Linked DNA regions of Homo sapiens. The protein of the gene in region 4 purifies or fractionates together with the protein of the main gene of each other region. This does not show direct contact. Each region holds a gene or a part of one and is shown on either strand. Other genes may lie near its edges.

Region 1 (5,833 bases), on a different chromosome or scaffold from region 4:
CACAGCACCTTCTGACTGCAGGAGTTGTTTTGCATCTGCTTTGGTCAATCTCTTGCTCCTTTGCATGTTTGCTTCTCTCTTCTCTGTCTTTACTCTCTTCATGCTCTTTGCCTTAACACAACCCCAGCTTTGCCGTGTGCAATGCCCTAGGTACTGTATTTCGCTTCGCTTTGTCCCAGGAATGTGTATAATGCAATTACAGAATACCTCACTGTGTTGCAGAGGTGAACAATCATAGGAAATATGGGGGACATGTTTTAGTCAGGCTTTTTTTTCTTTTTTTTTTTCTTGGAGAAGGAGTCTCACTTTGTCGCCCAGGCTGGAGTGTGGTGGTGTGATCTCAGCTAACTGCAACCTCTGCCTCCCGGGTTGAAGCAATTCTCCTGCCTCAGCCTCCCAAGTAGCTGGGACTACAGGCACACGCCACCACGCCCGGCTAATTTTTTGTATTTTAGTAGAGATGGGGTTTCACTGTGTTGCCCAAGCTGGTCTCGAACTCCTGAGCTTAAGCAATCCATCCGCCTCAGCCTCCCATAGTGCAGATTTTACAGGCGTGAGCCACCGCGCCCAGCCCTACTCAGGCTTTAATTATTTATGGCAAGCCTGCTGTGTGTAGGACACTGTGCCAAGTGCTTTGCAGTATTTTTTTTATTGTGATAAAAGATGGAACAAAATTTATTATTTTAACCATTTTTTAAATGTGTAATTCATTGACATTGTTTACATTCACAATGTGTGTAACCATCACCACGGTTTATTTCCAGTACTTGGTCATCATCCCAAACAGAAATTGTAACCATTAAGAAATAAGTCTCCATTCCCATCTATGCCTTGGTAACCTTTATTCTGCTTTCTTTCTCTATGAATTTGCCTGTGTTGGGTACTTTCATGTGAGTGGTATCATAGAATATTTATCCTTTTGTGACTGGCTTATTTCATTTAGCATACTGTCAAAAAGGTTCATCCATGTTGCAGCATGTGTCAGAATTCATGTCTCTTCTCTTCTCGCTTTGCTTTCCTTTCCTTTTTCTTTATTCTTTCCTTTCCTTTCCTTTTCTCTTTTCTTTTTCCTTTCCTTTTTTCTTTTCCGTCCCATCATGTCCAGGCTGGAGTGCAGTGGCGTGATCTTGGCTCACTGCAGCCTTGAATTGGCAGGCTCAAGTGATCCTCCCATCTCGGCCTCCCAAGCAGCTAAGACTACAGGCATGTGCCTCCATGCTTGGCTACTTTTTGTATTTTTTTGTAGAGACCATGTTTCACCATGTTGGCCAGGCAGGTCTCGAACTCCTGGGCTCAAGCGATCCACCTGCCACAGCCTCTCAAAGTGCTGGGATTACAGGCATGAGCCATTGTACCTGGCCTCATTGTTTCTTATTGCTGAATAATATTCCATTGTATATATATACCATATTTTATTTATGCAATTACCTGCTTATGGACACTTGGGTTGTACATTATTTTTTATAATGCACTTGGTTCCGCTTAAATTTTTCTTGCCTTCAACACTTTCCAAAATGCCCCAGCACTCTTCTGGCTTTCATCCTTCTGATCCAAGAGAAAAAAGTTAGAATCTGAGTACTCTGCTTTTGAAAAACTGCACACTCGTATGTTATCGAGCAGCTTTTTCCATGTCCTCCATTTACTGTATTTATTTAACTAGAAACTGTCCACTCTATTCCAGTCACTGGTGGACAGAGGACCAGCCTTAGTGCTCACTTCATATGGCATCTTGACATAATAAATCTTGGGACGTCCATGAGCTAGCTGACTGTGCTTCGTGTTTAGCTCTTCACCTACTTATTTTTCTTTTTTTAGCGGGGAGACAGAGCCTTGCTTGGTCATAAAGGCTGGAGTGCAGTGGTGCAACCTTGGCTCACTGCAACCTCTGCCTCCTGGGTTCAAGCAATTCTCATGCTTCAGCCTCTGGAGTAGCTACAGGCATACACCACCACACCTGGCTGATTTTTGTATTTTAGTAGGGATGGGGTTTCTCCATGTTGGTCTGGCTGGTCTCAAACTCCAGGCCTTAAGTGCTCTGCCCGTCTCAGCCTCACAAAGTGCTGGGATTACAGGCATGAACCACTGCGCCCGACCCTTACCTAGTTTTTATTCCTAACTTTCAGAGGTCATAACTGATAATGGTGCAACTGCACAACTCAGTCGCTGGGAACCCATAGTTACAGTTAGGACCAGGGCACAAAATTCACTTACATGTAGAAATTCTCAGCACCCTGCTTAGACAGTTGCATGTATCTTGCACATATATCAGACTGCTTGATTCACAGCAGGACACATCAATTCATTGTCACCCAGCTGTTTGCTCTGTTCTTAAATGTTAGATGCTAAAATCTGGCTTAGTTAGTGAAGAATTAAATAAATGAGGTGAGAAGTTATCTTTTCTGTGGTAGTTGATGTCGTTAATGATATAATAAACAGTACCAGCACACTCCTGTTCTAAGGATGAACCATTCAAATAAATAAATAATAAAAGGACAACATAATAGGGACTTACTAGGTCTCAGGCACTTTGCTAAGCTCTTATGCATGAACTCATTTCATAATACCTTCTGAAGTAGGTGCTACTATTTTCTTCATTTCTAGTTAAAGCAACAGAAGCATCAGTAGGTTGACTCAAGTTGACAGCTAGAAAATGTCAGACTCTAGATCGAAGTGTAGGTCTATCTTACTTCACAACTGGAGCGCTATTTAACACACCTTAGGATTGTAGATTGTTTTGGTCAGAGATGATTTCTTATGTTCTAGTTGAGGAGTCGGCAATATTAGGCACCAAGTGAATAAATGAGTCATGGAAGAAAAGGGGGCACTGTTAAGAACCTTTTGAAGTCTCCTTTTATATGATAATCTTTTTAGCACTGTTCTAGTGTGGTAGTTTATAACTTATGGGGGATAACATGTATTAAAGAAATTGTTCATATTATTCTGGTGTGTTTACAGGTGGTTGCTGTATATGGAACTTTATCTGATTTGCTTTCTGTGGCCAGCAGTAAACTCGGCATAAAAGCCACCAGTGTGTATAATGGGAAAGGTGGACTGATTGATGATATTGCTTTGATCAGGTAACCTTCACCTTTTTATAAGCTGTCAACAGTGTGCCTCAACTTCTTGGTGCTATGCTGTTTCCCTTAAGCAGTAATTTAATCACTGTTAAGAGTACAGGATTTTGGCAAGTGTTTACCTAGAATTTGCTCTTTGGAATTTAAATCATTTGGGCTTAAGGTGAATTGATCAGCTAGAAAACCCTTAGTACATTTCAGTATACTGATAGTCTTTCTGCATAGTTCATATATAGCTATGAGGAATTTCTTCTTTGTGGTACTAGAGAAGGATCTAGTAAGACGTGCAGTTTTTAACATTAAAAATCTAATTCATCTCTTCACTTTTATATGCGCCTGCTTGTTAATCATTTCCTAAGAATGCTTTGCATTTTATAATCATTACAAAGGCCAGATTTTGTAAAAACTTTATAAATATGATAGAATTCTAAGTAGTGATATCACCAGTGATCCACCATAATTATAGGCTTATGTTTGTACCTTAAATATCTCAGGCAGATTTATCTCTTTAAAACAAGTGTGTAGTTCACCTTACTTCATCTTCATGAGGTCAGAGAATTTTGGAGCAGGAAGATGCTTAACAAAGAAGATGGTAAAGGGAACACAAATTAAGTATTGACTATGCCACTTATGTTATCATTGCTTTGCCTGAGTTATACCATTTAATTGGCAAAACATGAGTTTTTTTTATCAGTGATGTGAAGATAATGATGCTTTAACCTATAATGATATACAAAGTCTCTGTATAAATCTAGATCAAAATGACCTTTCAGTATAATATACTGCTTTGCAGTTAATCAGTTCTAGACCCTTCATTTTACAGATGAGGAAACGAATTACCTGTGAAGCTGAGGACTCACTCAGGTCATACAGCTAGTTGGGTTTTGTTAATGAAAACAGATTTTTATACTAATCTGAAAAAGTAAACTGGCATGGTGAACAAGTAGGAAATACTATACACTACATTTTAAATCCAAATAAATTAGGATAACTTCTTAGTTTTTCAATATGTATCTCCCAGCTTCTTTCAGTTTCTAAGGAAAACTGAGTCACATTGTTGGATGATGATCCTCATCAACCTAACTTTCTTCTTAACAAACACGAACTCTGCTTCTTAGAAAAATTTAACGTGTCCTGTGATGTCCTATAGGAAATAAAAACGTCTACAATGGAAGGTTATAATTGAAGCCTTCTGAGCTATAAGATATCTGTTTATTCATTTTTGGTTCACAATACAGTATCTGGGGTAATGGGTTGAGGAAGAGGATGTGCACTGATTGTCCAGAACTCTGGGTTATGTGCAGCCATTTACATTTGGGTGTATGGTGGATGTGTAGTGGGTAAACACTGACAGTAGAGTTACTTCCAGCTATATTTTTCCTAGATTTAATATGACAGTTTATTTCATCTCCAAAGCACACAACAGCTGATGATTTAGGGGTAAAAAATGTAAAGAAAAAAAGAATAGTTGGCTGTGACTTTAATCTATCCTTTCAGCATAATTATTCATTCTCAATTGATAAGAAAGCTGAACTCAACATCGTTTGTGTAAGGAGATTTTTTTCCCCACATTTCAAAAGTACTTTCATGTGCAAGATCTTATTTTTGAATTTAAATTCAAAGACAGTTAAGTTCAAGGGGTTAAACAAAGCATTGGAAACTTAGCTTCTTTGCAGTCTAGATTGATAGCAAAACCTATTGTCTATATAATTGTAAGGAATAGTTCCTATAAGCAACAGATAATTAATGTGATTTTTAGATTTTGATGGTAGCTTTTTAAATTTTGATTTCCCCAGGGATGATGATGTTTTGTTTGTTTGTGAAGGAGAGCCATTTATTGGTAAGTGACTTTAAAAGCCAATTTTATCTGCCAAAAAAAAAAAAAAAAGATGGAATGACAATTATTTTAAATGGGGCTATTAAGCTTAAACATTAAAAATGATCTTATGGCTGTATTCAAATCTTCACACTTTTTGATTCTGCATTGGGTATGTTAAAGTAAATTTTTTACTATATGATCGTAGTTTATTATAGATGCATGTTTTACATGCCGTTAAAATGCTCTGGAGGTATACATATTCATTAACTGTAACATAGTAAGGTAGTTTTGATCTTAGAAACAATTGTTTTGTTTGAAAATTTTTTCTTTGATGGTGAATGTCAAAATTTTTCTACGTGTTGTATTACATATTTGTGAGTAAATATTGCTTGCGTAAGTAGTGTTTGACAGTATTTCACAGTGATCAGATCAGCCAAAAAATGACTTGGTATCAACCACACACACAGGTGTGCACACACACTACCCTTTGATTTGGAAGAAAGCTTATAGTTGTATATCTCAAAAGAAAAGGCCGAAAGGAAGATAAAGTATTTGATTTATTTAGATCCATACAGTCCACACTCTGAATATTTAAGTATTTTTTAAAGCATCATACTAATTGCATTTGGTGAGTGGAAGTAGTTCTCACGATTGTTGCACAGGCAATTGTCAACTTAGAAGTAAGTGCATACTCTTGTCTGTCTGTCTCTACCTTAAAACTGTAAGCAAGAACTTCTCATCTTCTTTTATCCATTGGCCTAACAGTGACTGGCAGGCAATGGTCACTTAATTGGTCCACTGCATACAAACACAATAAAAAATGATCAATTAAGGTTTTTTTATTGTTATTAACTCATGGATTTAAAAATATTTGGTATATTTTCATCCTCTGCATTTATTGATGTTCAGATGGTCTTAATTTTTTGCCACTGGAAATCTC
Region 2 (5,833 bases), on a different chromosome or scaffold from region 4:
AATGATTGAGTTTTGAGAGTTCTCTATATAATCTAGATGCAAATCTTTTGGGGATAGAGAGTTTTATTTCTTCATTTCCAATTTGTAGGCCTTTTATTTATTTTTATTGCCTAATTGCAGTGGCTACAACTTCCAGTACTATGTTGAATAAGAGAGATGAGAGTGGACATCCTTGCATTGTTTCCAATCATAGGGCAAAAGCGTTCAGTCTTTCACCATGAAGTATAATGTTGGCTGTAGGTTACTTGTAGGTGTTTTTATCAAGTTGAGGCAATTCTCCTCTGTAGGGGGTTAAATTGTGTCCCTCAAAAAGATAAGTTCAATTTCTAACCTCCAGTATATGTGAATGTGACCTTATTTAGAAATAGGGTTTTTGCAGATGTAATTAAGGATCCTGAGATGAGATAATCACTGATTTAGAGCAGACCCTAAATTCAATGACTGTTGTCCTTATAAGAAAACGGAGAGGGAGGCTTAACACAGAGACTCACAAAGGGAAAGGCTCTGTGAAGACAGAAGCAGAGACTGGAATGATGCATCTATAAGCCAAAGAATACCGAGAATTGCCAGCAGCCATCTAAGAGAGACTTATGGCACAGATTCTCCTTCAGAGACCTCAGAAGAAACCAACAGTTTGATTTAAAACATTTGGCCTCCAGAACTGTGAGAGAATTAATTTCTCTTGCTTTAAGCCACCCCATTTGTGGCAATTTGTTACAGCTGCTCTGGGAAACAAATACACCCTCTATTCCTAACTTGCTGAGTTTTAATGATGAATGGGTATTGGATTTTGTCAAATGCTTTATCTGCATCAGTTGATATGATCATATTTTTTTTTCTTTAGCCTGTTGATATGGTGGATTACACTGAATGCTTTTTGAATGTTGAACCAGCCTTACAAACCTGAAATAAATCCCATTTGGTCATGGTGTATAATTCTTTTCATACATTGTTGGATTCAATTTGCTAGTGTTTTGCTAAGGATTTTTGTGTCAAAGTTCATGAGAGAGATATTGGCCTGTAGTTTTCTATTTTTGTACTGTTTTTGTCTGGTTTTGGTATCAGGATAATACTGGCCTCATAAAATGAGTTGGAAGTGTTTCCTCCTGTTCTATTTTTTGGAAGAGAATGTGTAAAACTGATCTTAATAATTCTTTAAATGTTTGCTAGAATTATTTGCTGAAGCTATCTAGGCCTGGAGATTTATTTTGTAGGAGCTTTTAAAATTATGAATTCAATTTCTTTAATGGTTATAGAGCTATTCAGATTATCCATTTCATATTGGGTGAGTTCTAGTAGTTTGCTGCTTTGGATAAATTGGCCAATTTTTTTCTAAGTTGTCAAATATATGAATGTATAATTGTTCATAATATTCTCTCATTATATTTTTAATGACTGCAGGATCTATAGTGATATTCCATATTTCATTTCTGATATTAGTGATTTGGGTCTTAACTCTTTTTATTAGTCTTGCTAGAAGTTTGTCAGTTTTACTGATTTTTTTTTCAGAAAAGCAAATTTTTGTGTTATTAATTTTTCCCTATAGTTTTTCTATTTCAAATTCATTGATTTCAGCTCTTTATTATTCCCTTCCTTCTGCTTGCTTTGGGTTTATTTTGGTCTTCTTTTCTAGATCCTTGATGTAGAAATTTAGGTTATTGACTTAAGACCTTCCTTTATTTCCAATGTAAACATTTAGTGTTAGAAATTTCTCTCTCAGAATTGCTTTATCTACATGGTACATATTTCAATATGTTGTGTTTTCATTTGCATTCAGTTCTACGCATTTTTAAAAAAATTCCTTTTGAGATTTCCTCTTTGATCCACGGATTATTTAGAACAGTGTTGTTTAATTTCCACGTGTTTAGATACTTTTCTGCTACAGATTTCTAGTTTCATTGCATTGTAGTCAGAGAATATACTCTGTATGATTTCAATTATTTTAAATTTGTTTAGGTTTGTTTTACGGCCAAGCACATTATCTATCTTGGTGAATGTTCTGTAGGTGCCAAAAAAAAGTGTGTTCTGCTGTTGTTGGGTGGAGTTTTCTATACAAAGAGATATAATTTAAAACCACTATGGAAAAACCAATATAAAATCGTAAAAATATTCAACTGGATCCTGTTAATTGACTGTCTTTTTCAGATCTTCCCTATATTTACTGATGTTCTGTCTAGTAGATTTATCAATTTCTGAGAGGGGGTATTGAATTTCCCAACTATAATTGTGGATTTGTCTCTTTCTTCTTTTAGCTTGATCAGTTTTTGTTCATGAATTTTGAGACATAGTTGTTTGGTGTGTACCCATTAAGGATCATTGTATCCTCCTGCTGGATTGATCCATTTATCATTAGGTAATGTCTCTGTTTATCTCTTTTAACTTTCTTTGCTCTGAAGACTATTTTATCAGATATTAATGAAGCTTCTCCAGATTTTTGAAAAATTAATACTTATGTGGTACATCTTTTTCTATATTTTTACTTGCAATCTTCCTATGTCATCAAATTTAATGTGAGTTTCTTGTGAATAGCATATAGAGTAGTTCCCCCTTATTCCAGGGAGATATATTCCAAGACCCCCAGTGGATGCCTGAAACCATGGATAGTACTGAACTCTATGTATACTATATATATTTTTCCCCCATACACACAAACCTATGATAAAGTTTAATTTATAAATTAGGCACAGTAAGAGATTAACAATGATAACTACTAATAAATAGAACAATTATACCAATGTACTGGAGTAAAAATTATGTGATTGTGTTCACACACTCACACTCTTTCTCACAAAATATCTTATTATACTGTACTATGGGTAACTGAAACCTCAGAAAGTAAAACCACAGATAAAAGGGGACTACTGTAGTGGTATTCGCATTCAATATAATTATTTAATGTAATTATTGATATATTATTCTTGTTTGCTATTTTATTATTTGTTTTTTGTTTGTTCCCTTTAGTTCTTATTCTTCTGTTTCCCTTTTCTTGCTTTTCTGATAGTTACTTGAGCATTTTTTATGATTCCATCTTGACTTATTCATAGTGTTTTAAAATATATATCTTTGTAGAGTTTTCCCAGTGGTTTCTCTGGGTATTCAACATTCATGTGTGAGTCATAACAGTCTACTCATATCAATATTTTACCACTTTGATTGAAGTGTATAAACCTCACTTCCATTTAGTTTCCTTTACCTTCCCCACTTTTAAATATCATTGTCTAGAGTATAAAATGGTGTTATAATTTTGCTTCAATTATCAAATATGATTTATAGAACTCATGAGTTAAAAGATAGTCTACTTTATGTACTTACATTTCTGCTCTTTCTGTTGTCCTTTCATCCTTCCTGATTGCTCTTTATCATTTATTCTCTGTTTGAAGAAATCCCTTTAGCTATTTTTTAACAGTATGTCTGCTAGCAACAAATCTTTTTGTTTTCCTTCAACTGAGAATTTAATTATTTCCCCTTAATTCCTGAAGGATAGTTTCACCAGATATGGATTCTATTTTCTGTCATCTCTGCTCTTCTATTGAGTCCATCAGCCAGTTTTTCATTTTTGTTATTTTATTTTACAGTTCTATAATTTATATTTGTTTTTTGGGGGGAGGGGACAAACAAGCCAGTTTTATTCAAAAAATAATTCCAAGGGGGAAAAAAGAAAACTGAGAAAGAGCCTATAGATTGTAAGGGTCTTTAGAAAAATAGTAGATAATTGCAAAGTATGTATTTTTTAAATTCTTGTTTTTAACTTAATTTTTATTTTAATTAATTAACAAATAATTATTGCATATATTTATGGGATACAATGTGATATTTTAATATATGCATACACTGTGGAATAATTACATCGAGCTAATTAACATATCCATCACCTCACGTAATTTATCCTTTTTTTTGTTTTTTGTTCTGTTTTGTTTTGTTTTCAGACAGGGTCTCACTCTGTCACCCAGGTTGGAGTGCAGTAGTGTGATCTCGGCTCACGGCAACCTCTGCCTCCCAGGCTTAAGCAATTCTCCCATCTCAGCATCCCGAGTAGCTAGGACCACAGGCACATGCCACCATGCCCAGCTAATTTTGTGTGTGTGTGTGTGTGTGTATTTTTGGTAGAAATAGGGTTTCACCACGTGGCCCAGGCTCTTCTCGAAATCCTGAGCTCAAGTGATCCACCTTCCTTGGCCTCCCAAAGTGGCGGGATTACAGGCATGAGCCACCACATCTGGCCTACCTATCTTTTGTTTCGTTTTGTTTTTTTCATAGCAGGAACATTTAAAATCTATTATTTTTTTGAATACTTTTTTGGGGAACAGGTGATGTTTGGTTACGTGGATAAGTTCATTAGTGGTGATTTCTGAGATTTTGGTGCCCCCATTACCCGAACAGTGTACACTGTACCCAATGTGTAGACTAAAATCTTATGCTTTTAGCAGTTTTGAAATGCACATACATTATTATCAACTATGGTGAGCATGCTGCAAAATAGGTCTTAAAAACTTATTCCTCTTGTCTAACTGGAACTTTGTACCCTTTGGTCAACTTCTCCCCATTTCCCACTCCCTCCAAGCCACAGTCCCTGGTAACCATTCTACTCTAATTCTGAGTTCAACTCTTTTAGATCTCACATATAAGTGAGATTATGTGGTGTTTGTCTTTCTGTGTCTGGCTTGCTTCACTTAGCATAATGTCCCCCAGGTTCATTCATGCTGTAGCAAATGACAGAATTTCCTTCTTTCTTATATTTTTATAACTTCTTTTTCTTTTCTGCAAGTTTCCTTTTTTTTCTTTATTTGTTTTAAGATAATGTTAATTGATTGTTGAGGCATTTTTATGATGGCTACTTTGAAATCCTTGTCAGATAATTCCAACATCGAACTCATCTTAATGTTGGCAGTAGTTGCCTTTTCTCAGTCAAGTTGTGATTTACTTGATTCTTGGTATGACAGATGATTTTTGATTGAACATTTTGTCTACTATGTTAGGAAACTCATATTTACATTTTTTATTTTTGCAGTCAGTCACATTATTTATGCTTCACATGCAAGCAGGTGTTGGCTTACTTTTGTGGTCTGTTGTTCTAACAGCAGTTTAATTTTCAGTATTGTTTTGCTCTGTTTGGTTTATCGGATATCACTGAGGCTGACATTTGTCCCAGATCATATCGCCTGAAGGAGCAGAAAGGTTTCCCTAGGTCAGGCTTCCAGGTGCCTCTCAGTTGGGGTAGGTATGGTGGGACACTTCTACTGGCGCCCTGCACTGTTGGTGTCTCTATGGGTAGGAGAGGACAGTCATACACCCACTGAGACAGAGCCTTCCCAGACTGGGCCGCTTGCCATCACTTTATGCCTCGTGTCTGTTCTACCCTCCCACCTCGATATCTCTAGGTGAAAGTGGGACATCTCAGGCCTGGGGAGAAGGCAAATGCTTCTTTTGTCCACTGTTGTTGGTGGGGTTTCTGAAGATCCCCCCTTACCTGTGGTGTTGGGCCTACCTGATGTTGTCAGAGGGACTCTGAGGGAGGAGTAAGCTTACCTGGGCTGCCCTCTGTTGTTCAGTTGGGTATCAGGAATGGCCAGGACTAGGTTTCTTTCTTCTGCTGGGTGGGAAACATAGGATACCCTTGCTCTTTGTTTTTCCCTGGGTCTCAAACCAGTTTGCCTTCTCCTTACAACCTTCCAGAGTTCTACCCTGGTTGTCTCTTGCATTATTTCCAGGGTTTATACTTGTGCTTAGCAGGGAGGAACAATGAAAAACAGGTCTGTACTACATGTCCAGACCAGAAATCTCCCTCAGTTTTTAAGAGTGTAAAATTGTCCTGAGACCACAAATTTTGAGAACT
Region 3 (5,833 bases), on a different chromosome or scaffold from region 4:
TCTCTGTCCAGAGAGTGTTTTAGAATCAACTCAGGATATTTACGACCATCTGGAGTCTGTTTCTCAGCGAGATCAAAGTACTCGTTGTCATTAAGGTGGTATCTTTGTAGTGAGTTAGGACCAACATCTGAATCCAGGGCTGGGTCAAGTGGAAATGTTGTACCTGGCTTAGTGGATTCGCCAATTTTTAAATTAATCTTAGTCTGTTTGAATAGCGGGGTATTATCATTTATATCCTGCACAATTACTGCTATGTAGAAAATATTTAGTGGATTTTCAGCGACAGTATCGAAATCCAGAACACACAGAGGCTGCTTCCCGCATATCTGTTCTCGGTCTATTCTGTCACTCACAAGTAAGTCTCCGCTTTCTGGGTTTACTGTGAAATATTCCTTCTCCGCGCTAACCCGCAGCTTCCGGGCTGGCAAGTCCCGGACGCTGAGCCCCAGATCCTTGGCGAGGTTTCCTACGACCGAGTTTTTGGCCAGCTCCTCTGGAATTGAATAGCGGATCTGGACTGGGAGAGCCCCGGGGAACAAAGACAACAGGAAGGGCAACAGTACCTGCAGCCACCGCACCAGCCCGCACCTCCCTGAGCTCGCTTTCATCTTCTGGCTCCCTTTGCTCCTTTGCCCATAGGAGGAATAAGCCTTCCGGGGATGGCAGAATCCGGGCTAAGGTCACTTTTCCTGCTTTTGTTTTCTGTTTCCGAATCTATACTGGCCTTCTCTGTGTGGTTGGTTTGTGCAGGAAGTTCCCCTCTAAGAGGCTCCCAAACGCTTCTCTTCGTTCTTTTGACCAACAGCGACGCTCAGAGGTTTTCTCAGGAAACTGCACTAATGGCTTGTCAATATTTGCTAAGAACTTTTTTCTTTTCTTTTCTTTTTTAATTTATAAAGTCTTCATTTGTTTTAAAATATGTGAAATATTCATATAGTTCCAAATTCAAAAGATGCATTCAGCATAGGTTCTTCCTTTCATCTCTGCTTTAGATGAGGAGAAATGCTTTCACAGGGGAAATGAGTGTTAAAGTTTCTTAGGTATCCTTCCGGAGATATGTCTTGTATAGGGCAACGGATTTTTATAAATATTCTGTCTCCTTCTTTACACAAATGTAAGCATACAACATACCATATTCTGCACATTGCTTTTTTAGTTGTTATATCTTAAAGATCATATCAGTACATAGAGAGCTTTCCTATTTATTTCTTATAGTTATCTAGTGGCCCATAATATAGTTATCTAGTAGTCCGTAATATGAATATACAACAATTTGTTTAATCAAAATTGTTATTTGCTAAAAGAAACCCACTGCCCATTCTAACAAAAACACATTTTTTAAAAAATTTGATTTTAGGTTATAAATTATCTACTGCTTTCCTAGGCCTTTAAAACATGTGGCACTCTCATTCTGGAATATATTCCTAATGCCAACACCTGAATATGCTTGACACAGTTTCAGACCAATTGAGCATTTCCAAATTATATTTTATGGCTTAATTACTTTAAACAATCTCTCCTCAGATGTAAGTTGTCTCTCAACATTCACTTGTTATTTCTGCTTTCTGCTCCCCAAGCCAGGTAACTGCATCATATCATATTCCAGCTTACTCTATGTATTGCACCACAACTTTCTATGAATACAAAACCATGTAGAAACTAAAACTCTCCTTTGTAAGTCAAATTGAGGCATATTCCACAGTCTATCACTACAACTTCCAGTTATCAAATTACACTAATTTGTGTAAGCATATGCATTCATGAATTTTGAATTCTCACAGAACCTAAATGAAAGCACAAAGAACAAAAGTGTTGTATATCCCCTACACACAAAATATTTTCCCTCATATAAAATAATCCCAGAGCCACATGATGACAGAAATATCTGAAAGCAATTTGTAGCAATAGGGATGAGGCCACCTTACTAAGCAGCGTAAATCATATCAGTCCAGAACCCAAGTAACTCAACCTTTGAAAGAGGCTCACATGATGACAAGAGAAAAGACTCCAAAAACTTATATTTTCCTTGGAAATCAAGAAAGTCTCAATAGTGATGTCATGATAAGCAATTTAAAAATTATTAAAGTTACTCCTAGAATCTACTTATATATGACTGAAATTAGCTTGGAAATATTTCTCATAATCACAGGAGTGCACCAGAGGAATCACACATAGTCACTTCTGGTGCATCTCAGAACAGCAACAAGAAAATATTTGAAATATACCAGTTCATTGAGAAAATATCCTGTTAAAGTTATATCTAAAAGTTAAACTCACAAATTGCCAGTATTCTTAAATTGACGTTGCCTGTTATAATGGAAAATACCCTTTCAAGGAAGGAAAAGTAAACTTCAAGCAAAGCATGGTAGAGTGTGAAAATAGGAAATTAAAAAACCCTCAGTCCAGATCCAACAATAGCTTCATGAGAAAGAATATTGTAAATGTGAATTTACACAATTGCCTTCTATTTTACAGGTCTCTTGTATCTTTTCAGGAACACCTAAGAGAAAAGGAAATTTATTCTTTATTTTACTTTATTTTATTTTACTTTTTGGAGACAGAGGCTTGCTCTGTTGCCCAGGCTGGAGTACAGTGTCATGATCTCAGCTCATTGCAACCTCTGCCTCCCAGGTTCAAGCAATTCTCATGCCTCAGCCTCCAGGGTAGCTGGGACTACGGGCACACACCACCACGCCTAGCTAACTTTTTGTATTTTAGTAGAGACTGGGTTTCACCATGTTGCCCAGACTGGTCTCGAACTCCTGAGCTCAGGCAATCCGTCCTCCTCACACTCCCAAAGTGTTAGGATTACAGGTGTGAGCCACCACACCCAGCACAGAAAAGGAAATTTAAGGAAATGAGGTGGCTCAGAGTTGTAAAATTAGAAAATTCTGGCTGAAACTACAACTGAATGAAGACCAAAAAGGATAAGTAATAAACAACATTTTTGTGTGGTAAATACTGTTGATCATTATTGGAAGGTCATCCACCAGTTTTCTTTAAAGCAATAAAATATTAAAAGAGGCAACTTTATTTGATATATTACATATAAAATGAGAGACATTTACACAACTCTTTGTCTATATTTCAGTGTGGTATGATCTATTATAAGATTGACTCACCTGAAGATTAGGGTCTCCTTTTGTTTCAAGTAAATCCTGAGTTATCAGAAGAGGCTCGCTTTTCTCACAACTCTCCCGGCTGATGAGCGTGTCTGCATAGCTGGGTTGGGAGAAGATCAGGTGACTCTTCCGCGAGTCCGCGGTGAGGGAGACCTCGTGGGAATAGGTCTGCAGGAAAGCCCGAACCCCGTCCACGCCCACAAAGTGCGAGGCAGGCACACCTGCCAACCTGCTGCCTTCAGCGTGAAGCAGGCGTGACTTGTGCCAGCGTCTCAGCTTGAGTGCTAGCAGCACCGTGACAAAAGCCAGGAAGACGCAGGAGACAGCGGCCACTGCCACCACGAGATAGAGTGTGAGGCCCGAGTCGTCTGGGTCTGCTGAAGGCTTGAGGCTGCCCAAGTCAGCCAGGACATCTGGGATGCTGTCGGCCACAGCCACAGTGAGTGTGACGGTGGCCGAGAGAGGGGGCTGGCCATGGTCCTGGACGACCACTACAAGCCTCTGCTTGAGCGCGTCTCTGTCCAGCAGGGCCCGTGCGGTGCGCACCTCGCCTGTGTGCAGCCCCACTGCAAATAGTCCCGGCTCGCTGGACTTGAGTAGGCTGTAGGACAGCCAGGCATTCTGACCTGAGTCTCTGTCCACTGCCACCACTTTGGTCACCAGGTAGCCGGAATCTGCGGAGCGGGGTGCCAGCTCCACACCAGTGGAGCCATCAGTAGGGAAGGTGGGGTACAGGATCTCAGGGACATTGTCGTTCTGGTCCAGCACAAAGAGGCTCAGTGACACATTGCTGCTGAGTGGAGGGTCTCCACTGTCACTGGCTGTCATCAGCAGCTGCAGGTCTCTAAACTGCTCATAGTCGAAGGAGCAAAGAGCATATAGGATCCCTGTATTGGAGTTGATGGAGACATAGGAGGACAGAGGTGCACCCTGGAAGGTGTCTTCGGCCAGGGAGTAAGTGATTCGGGCATTGTCACCACTGTCAGGGTCTTGAGCAGTCATAGATAAGATGGAGGCTCCTCTGGGGTTGTTTTCAGGAATGTAAGCAGAGTAGGAAGCATGAGGGAAAGTGGGTGGGTTGTCATTGATGTCCATCACTTGCAGTGAAATATGAGTTTCTGTAGACAGTGGAGGAGTTCCCTGGTCAGTGGCAGTTACAGTGATGTTATATTCTGAGACTTCTTCCCTGTCCAGTGTTCTGTGTGTCAACAACCGATAATAATTTCCATAGGTCTTTTCAAGTGTGAATGGCAGATTATCTGGAATAGAACATGTGACTAGGCCATTTCCTCCTGAGTCACTGTCATGCACGTTGAAAAGTGCAATTACTGTACCCGGGGAAGAAGATTCCTGGACTGAGCTGGTGAGAGATGTAACTGTGACTTCTGGTGCGTTGTCATTTTCATCCAGAACTGTCACCAGTACCTTGCTTCTAGCTCGGAGACCAGGCCCATCATGGGCTTCTACATCTATGTCATAGAATCCAGAGTCCTCATAATCTAGACCCCCCAATATTGTTATATCCCCACTCAGAGAATTCAACTGAAATAGCTGTGATATTTTGTCTCTTACTTTCCGGAAAGAATACGTCACGTCTCCATTGGCTCCTTCATCTGGATCAGTGGCTTTTACGGTGAGTAGCCGAGTGCCTACAGGAACGTTCTCACGAACACTTACGTGGTACTCGGGCTGAGTGAACACGGGAGCATTATCGTTGGTATCCACAAGTATTATGAGAATCCTGGCAGTGCCAGAGCGAACCGGGTCACCTCCATCGAAGGCCGTGAGAACGAGGTGGTGAACCGCCTCTTCCTCGCGATCTAGAGCGCGTTCCAGCACCAGCTCTGGGTACTTAATCCCATCGGCCCCACTTTGCACGTCCAGGGAAAAGTAACCGTTTGAGTTGAGCTGGTAACCCTGCAGGGAGTTTACACCTACATCCGGATCAAAAGCTTCAGGAAGAGGAAATCTTGCCCCAGGATTTTCATTTTCAGCAACTTTTATTTCCCTCTGTTCTGTCCCAAAACTGGGTGGGTTATCATTAACATCGATTATTTCCACCTCTACCCGCAAAATCTTCACTGTATCTTCTAGAAGAATCTCCAGGTTTGTCACACAGTTTGGAGATCTGTCGCAGAGCTCCTCCCTGTCTATCCTACCCGCGGTGACCAAGGTGCCGCTGCGCGGGTTCAGGGCGAAAAGCTGCGTCCTACCTCTGGAGACGATGCGGACTCCGCGCTCCGCCAGCTCCCGGGGCGCCAACCCCAGGTCCTTGGCGATGTTGCCCACCACTGAGCCTTCTTCCTGCTCCTCAAACACCGAGTAGAGAATCTGTTCGGCCCTGATTTCCACCAGAACCCCCAGGAGAAGGCAGATCTGGAGCAGCCGGGTGTGGTCTGGGCGAGCAGGAGGCGCCGCCATTACAACCCCGCCGCGGAGTCGCCTGTGCTTCGGTTTTCCCTCTGTCGAGGCCTGAGGAGCCCCAGGATCTTCTGGGTCCAAAATAAAGTGCATTCACAGCCAGAGCTCTCAGGGCTTCCGCTTGAAGCTTTCATAAAGCTCCAGAGCCAGTGCTTTGTGCTGCAGAAATCTTGTGATTCTGATTAAATTTCTGGTTTGTCTTTTCCCCCTGATTGGTGAACAGCGACACCCAGAGTCTTAACCTGTTACTGCAATTTATTCTTGGTTAAAAAAAGTTTATTTTTTATACA
Region 4 (5,833 bases):
GGCAATTTGAGAACACTGAGACATTTTAAAAGACAACCTGATCAGGATCAGGTAATATTTCAGTAACATAATCAATAAATTACAATAACATCCAACTGAATAGAAACAAACAAAAACAGAAAATAATTTCAAATGGGCTAAAAGCAAGATATACATTCTATTTTTTCTAACTTTTGACCACAGTCTAAAGTTTCCTTTTCATCTTTCTCTAGGAACTTTCAAAATGCTTATTTATTAACAAACAAAAAAACCCCCTTTGACTATTTTAGAAACTAAGCAGGCTGCATAAAATAGTGTTTAAAAGTAAAGAATCTGGTTCAAATCACAATTTCCCTATTTCCTTGGGTAAATTATTCAACTTATCTAACCCAGTCATTTTCTTGCTTATAAATACCTACACACTGTGGAGTTATGAGTGGGTTAAAGCATGCATGTGATGGATGCACTTAGTGTCTGCTGTAGAGTAAGTACTCAAAAAAATAGCTGCCATTATCATTATGTTATTTTTATGAATACATCTTACTTTCAGTTCCTTCTCAAGTCTATCTACTTCAGCTCCTAAAGTATCAATAATATTTTCTCCATGTTTAAGCATAAAGGTCTCTAGTTCTTCAGGAGTTTTCACTTCTTGAATTTCCTATAAAGAAAATGAAAACAGGAAAATAAATTTTTAAAAAACCATAGTGGTACACTTATGACTCCTTAAAAAAAAACAAACCTATAACAAACGCCATTAAGTTTAATGAACATTTTTAAAACTTTAAGCCACAGGCAATGGATTACCTATTTCCAAAACAATTCGGATCAAGAAAACTGAGTATAATACTACACAGAGGTAGCACTACAAAATTACTGGGGAAATAATATAGTCAATAAATAGTGTTAGAATATTTTCCCTTAAGAAAAAAAAATTGAATCCCTATGTCAGACCATTAAAATAATTCAAAGTGGATGAAAGACATAAGGGTAAAAAACAAACCACAAAACTACTAGATGAGAAGAGAATATTTTTATGATAATGGGATATGGAAGGATTTTTCATGCAAAAGAATAAAAAGCACAGAGGAAAAGATTACAAATCTCACATTAAAATTAAAAATCATATTAAATATTTTGTATAACAACAAAAAGAAAAGGAAGTTATAAACTAGAAAAAAATAATTGCATATATACAAGTAAGAATTAGCATCCAGGATATTAAAAATAAAGACCTTTCCAGGAGTTCAAGACCAGCCTGGCCAAGATGGTGAAACCCCATCTCTACTAAAAATAGAAAAATTAACCGGGTGTGGTCACAGGCACCTGTAATCCTAGCTACTTGGGAGGCTGAGGTAGATAATTGCTTGAACCTGGGGGGCGGAGGTTGCAGTGAGCCAAGATCGCGCCACTGCACTCCAGCCTGGGTGACAGAGCGAGACTCTGTCTCAAAAAATAATAATACAATGCAATAAAATAAAGACCTTTCAAATCTATAAGTGTAATGCAAATGAACTTAAAACATGAAAAATCAGGGAGCAATGTAGAGGAAATCCCACTGGTCAATGAACTTCAATGTTTATTAACCTCAATGCTCCAAGAAATAAAATTAGAACAAGATACTATTTCACACCTATCAAACTGGCAAAAATTTAATAACTCTATTAATACAATCATGTAAGAATAGGAAGCAAGAACCTTGATATACAATGATGGAAGTTAAATTGACACACTTTGGAAAATAACTTGGTAAGACCTAGGCAAGCTGAAGGTAAGTACACCCAATGGCCCACCTATTTAAAATCTAGCTATCTATATATACACCATACTAAAGAAATTTTCATATATGTGAACAAGGAAACGTGTGAGAATGCAATCATGGCATTGTTTCTTTCTTTTTTTTTTTTTTTTGAGACGGAGTCTCGCTCTGTCGCCCAGGCTGGAGTGCAGTGGCACGATCTAGGCTCACTGCAACCTCCAACTCCCAGGTTCAAGCGATTCTACTGCCTCAGCCTGCCGAGTAGCTGGGACTACAGGCACGCACCACCACACCCAGCTAATTTTTGTATTTTTAGTAGATACGGGTTTTCACCATGTGGGCCAGGATGGGATCGATCTCTTGACCTCGTGATCCGCCCACCTCGGCCTCCCAAAGTGCTGGGATTACAGACGTGAGCCACCGCGCCCGGCCATGGCATTGTTTCTAACAGTAATATAAATGTCCATCAACTGGAGACAAAATAAATAAATTACAGCATATTCATAGGATGAAATGCTCTATAACAATGAAGGTAAACTGACTAGAGATATATAAATTAACACGGAAGAATCTAAAAAATATGTTGTTATGCCAATTGTAGAGACGCATACAGTAGGATACCATTTATACCAATTTTTAAACATTCAAAATGTTACATATTACACTAAAAAATGCTGAAAAGTATAAAAATCTGAATGGAAAAGACAGGTACCAAATTCAGCATAATGTTTAATTCTAGGGATGGAAGAAGAAGAATGAGATATAGAAAGAGAAAATGGGGGCTTGAATTGTTTTTGTAATTATTTCTTTTTTTAAGACCTTAAGCAAATACACTATAGCAAAATGTTAAGATTTGACAGGGGCAAGTGGTAACATCTGTGCTGTTCATTATATTCTGTTTTATAAATTCTCTTTTAAACTATTCTTAATAAAAAAATGGATTCTGGAGTCAGGCAGATCTCGATTCATATATGACTCCATCTCTGTGGCACTACAACTTAAGGCAAATTACTTAATCTCTGTCTTTCAATTTCTATATATGTTAAAATAAAAATGTTATTTCATTGTTGAAATAACAGGGTTGTTGAGGGTAAATTAGATAAAAAAAGATTAAATGCACATAGCAAGCATGAAATAGTAAGTTTGTTCTTTTGCTGTCTCCTCTGAACCCCTCCATAGTAAATATAAAGGTCTCTGTTAAATTTTGGAACCTAAGAAGTTGAGAGCTAAAGTGCCTTTAAGATCTATAAAAAAAAATTTCATTTTGTTTACCTTAAAAGCATTTTTCTAACCCTCAGTTATGTAAGAAAACAACAAATAAACTTACTTGTAACATTTGGTCAAAATCTTGTTTTTCCAAATATGATCTTGTAACAACTCGCCCATCAAAATCTACTTCTGCCTTAAATCTTACTTTACCTAATCCCAGATCTGTGGCTTTAACATCATGAATTGCCCTGCAATCAATAACAATGCATACAAATTTATTTATACATACATACACATATATATACTTTAATAGCACAAAGGCTTGAATTATTGTTTTTTTCCCCACTAGTTACGAGAATGGACTAAGATGGCTTCAGAGTATTCACCATTAAGTACCACCTATCATTTTCCAAGGCCTGTCCGTTTAGCTTTTTTTTTGGCATGATATCATACAAAGGTGCAAACTTAACAAATATTATTTTATGGTAATTTATGAATTATAAAGCTCATGTATTAAAAGTTCATTAACTCTGCTGGGCGCAGTGGCTCATGCCTGTAATCCCAACACTTTCGGAGGCCGAGCAGGGAGGATCACCTGAGGTCAGGAGTTTGAGACCAGCCTGGCCAATATGGTGAAACCCTGTCTCTACTAAAACTACAAAAATTAGCCAGGCATGGTGGTGCATGCCTGTAATCCCAGCTACTCAGGAGGCTGAGACAGGAGAATTGCTTGAACCTGGGAGGCAGAGGTTGCAGTGAACCCAGATTGTGCCACTGCACTCCAGCCTGGGCAACAGAGTAAGACTCTGTCTCAAAAAAAAAAAAAAAAAAAAAAAAAAAAAAAATATATATATATATATATATATATATATATATATATATATTCATTAACTCTAAATCAATTTTCTAAAATGTCATGTTATCTCATAAGCCTTTGTCTCCATATATCTACTTATCAATTTCCTAAATGCCATATAAAAATTTGTTTTAATTTATAATGGTGTTGTAGAGTATATTAACCAATTGTATGTTCACTAGCTTCTTTAAAAGTCTTCATACAATGCTGTGAAGTTCTCTATTAGAATGAGGTTAATAATAACTGCCACATGGGACTTGATGTGAGGAATAATGAGCTAATACATATATAAAATGTTTAATACAGTAAGAACTATAAGGCAGGCATTTAATGGATGGCTTTCATAAGTGGATAGGGTGACATCTTTATTTTATACATGATAAAACCATCCTAGAGTGGCATAAGTGACTTGCTCAAGGTAATTTAGCTAGTAAACAGCAGATTAGGACTCCCCAGCCCAGCTCTTCAGAAATGCAAGCCCAGTGGTATTTGCATCATACCCTTTTGCCTCCCAGACAGGAAAGCAGATACTCAAGCATAACTACTTTTCACCCCTCCTGCTCTAACCCTCAGTAAACAATCTTCCCTAGAAACTGCTGAGAAATTCTCTTCTTTCTACAGTGATCACTGTAAGATCTTTTCTGTACAGCACATATAAGAAATAACAAAACACTCTGAATTCTGAGGACATGGAGATTTACTAGAAAAACAAGCCTACGTAAGACTCCAAGTATTCTTACAACATTAGACCCTAATTTCTGAGGGATCCTGAGCAGGTTACTAAACACTGAGTCCAAAATTTTTTATCCATATAAGGAAGCTATATTTTAATCAACCATCAAGGATGAAATAAGAATTAATGTTTTAATATTTATAGTTACATGTGCTCAAGTTAAAACAAAACTTTTTCAGATTGGCAAAAGGCTATATCATTTATTCTTTTTTTTTTCTCTCCTGGTAACTCACAGAACATATTTATTCATTTTCAAAAATCATTTCTACTTTAGTCTTCACAGAGTATAAACACATTTCATTATTTGGCTGGTATGTGAGTAGCAACTAATAAATATATTTAGATATACTTTTTCCTTATGTTCTTACATATAACTAACTACAGACAGAAAACTGTTTGGAGGGCTCCCATATGATCAATCCCTGCCACCTATACGCAAGCCCTTGTGTGATCTCCTCTCACTGAATGTGGGCTATAACTACCAAATATGGCAAAGTGATGAGATGTCATTTCCAAGACCAGGTGACTAACCTGTGACTTTTGTCTTGTTCACACTCGCTCTCTATTGCCTTATCAATTTGCACGCTTTGATTAAGCAAGCTGCCATGTTGAAGAGGCCCATTTGGCAAGGAGCTAAATCTTGCGAACAATCATGTGAGTAAGGTTAGAAGCAGCCCCTTCCCCAGGAGATGACTATAATCCCAGTCAACACCTTGATTACAGTCTATGAGAAACCCTGAAGTCGAAGACCCAGATAAGCTGTGCCCTGATTCCTGACTCACAGAAACTGTAAGATGGTAATATGTTGTTTAAACCACTAAGTTTTGGGCCAATTTGTCACACAGCAGTAGGTAACTAATATACTGTTTAAAAAAATTGTATGAATTTTCTGGATTACTAACGTATTTTTTCCAATAATTGAATCCACAGATATTCACTCTTCCACAAAATTTCGAATTTGCCAGTCTTTCAGTTTATAGCTCTTTTTTAGACATTACTTATTAAACAATATATACAAAATTATAAACATGTATGTAGCAACAACAGAGCACCAAAATATATGATGCCAAAACCAAGAAGAAATGAAGGGAGGAAGAGCTAATACAACAACAATAACTAGAGACTTCGATACTTTCAGTAACGGATACAGAGGCCGGGCACGGTGCTCACACCTAGCACTTTGGGAGACCGAGGCGGGTGGATCACCTGAGGTCAGGAGTTTGAGACCAGCCTGGCCAACATGGCCAGTGATGAAACCTCGTCTCTCAGGAGTTTGAGACCAGCCTGGCCAACATGGCCA

Evidence for each region.
Region 1: the proteins of SLC30A9 (region 4) and KCTD9 purify together in Homo sapiens (affinity purification with western blotting; one study listed by BioGRID). This does not show direct contact.
Region 2: the proteins of SLC30A9 (region 4) and VSIG1 purify together in Homo sapiens (co-immunoprecipitation; one large-scale study listed by IntAct). This does not show direct contact.
Region 3: the proteins of SLC30A9 (region 4) and PCDHGB1 purify together in Homo sapiens (co-immunoprecipitation; one large-scale study listed by IntAct). This does not show direct contact.

What each region holds. Positions count from the first base shown.
Region 1 is NC_000008.11:25,443,373-25,449,205, reverse strand, and holds part of KCTD9 (BTB/POZ domain-containing protein KCTD9), read left to right. Parts: intron 1-2,955; coding exon 2,956-3,077; intron 3,078-4,870; coding exon 4,871-4,914; intron 4,915-5,833. UniProt on the Homo sapiens protein: Substrate-specific adapter of a BCR (BTB-CUL3-RBX1) E3 ubiquitin-protein ligase complex, which mediates the ubiquitination of target proteins, leading to their degradation by the proteasome.
Region 2 is NC_000023.11:108,050,706-108,056,538, reverse strand, and holds part of VSIG1 (V-set and immunoglobulin domain-containing protein 1 isoform 2 precursor), read right to left. Parts: intron 1-5,833.
Region 3 is NC_000005.10:141,354,911-141,360,743, reverse strand, and holds part of PCDHGB1 (protocadherin gamma-B1 isoform 1 precursor), read right to left. Parts: intron 5,724-5,833; exon of another isoform or gene 5,637-5,723; coding exon of another isoform or gene 3,081-5,636; exon of another isoform or gene 3,011-3,080; intron 751-3,010; exon of another isoform or gene 609-750; coding exon of another isoform or gene 1-608. Other genes in the region: PCDHGB2 (protocadherin gamma-B2 isoform 1 precursor), read right to left, coding at 1-608; PCDHGA4 (protocadherin gamma-A4 isoform 1 precursor), read right to left, coding at 3,123-5,636. UniProt on the Homo sapiens protein: Potential calcium-dependent cell-adhesion protein. May be involved in the establishment and maintenance of specific neuronal connections in the brain.
Region 4 is NC_000004.12:42,073,016-42,078,848, reverse strand, and holds part of SLC30A9 (proton-coupled zinc antiporter SLC30A9, mitochondrial), read right to left. Parts: intron 3,193-5,833; coding exon 3,063-3,192; intron 638-3,062; coding exon 524-637; intron 1-523. UniProt on the Homo sapiens protein: Mitochondrial proton-coupled zinc ion antiporter mediating the export of zinc from the mitochondria and involved in zinc homeostasis, zinc mobilization as well as mitochondrial morphology and health.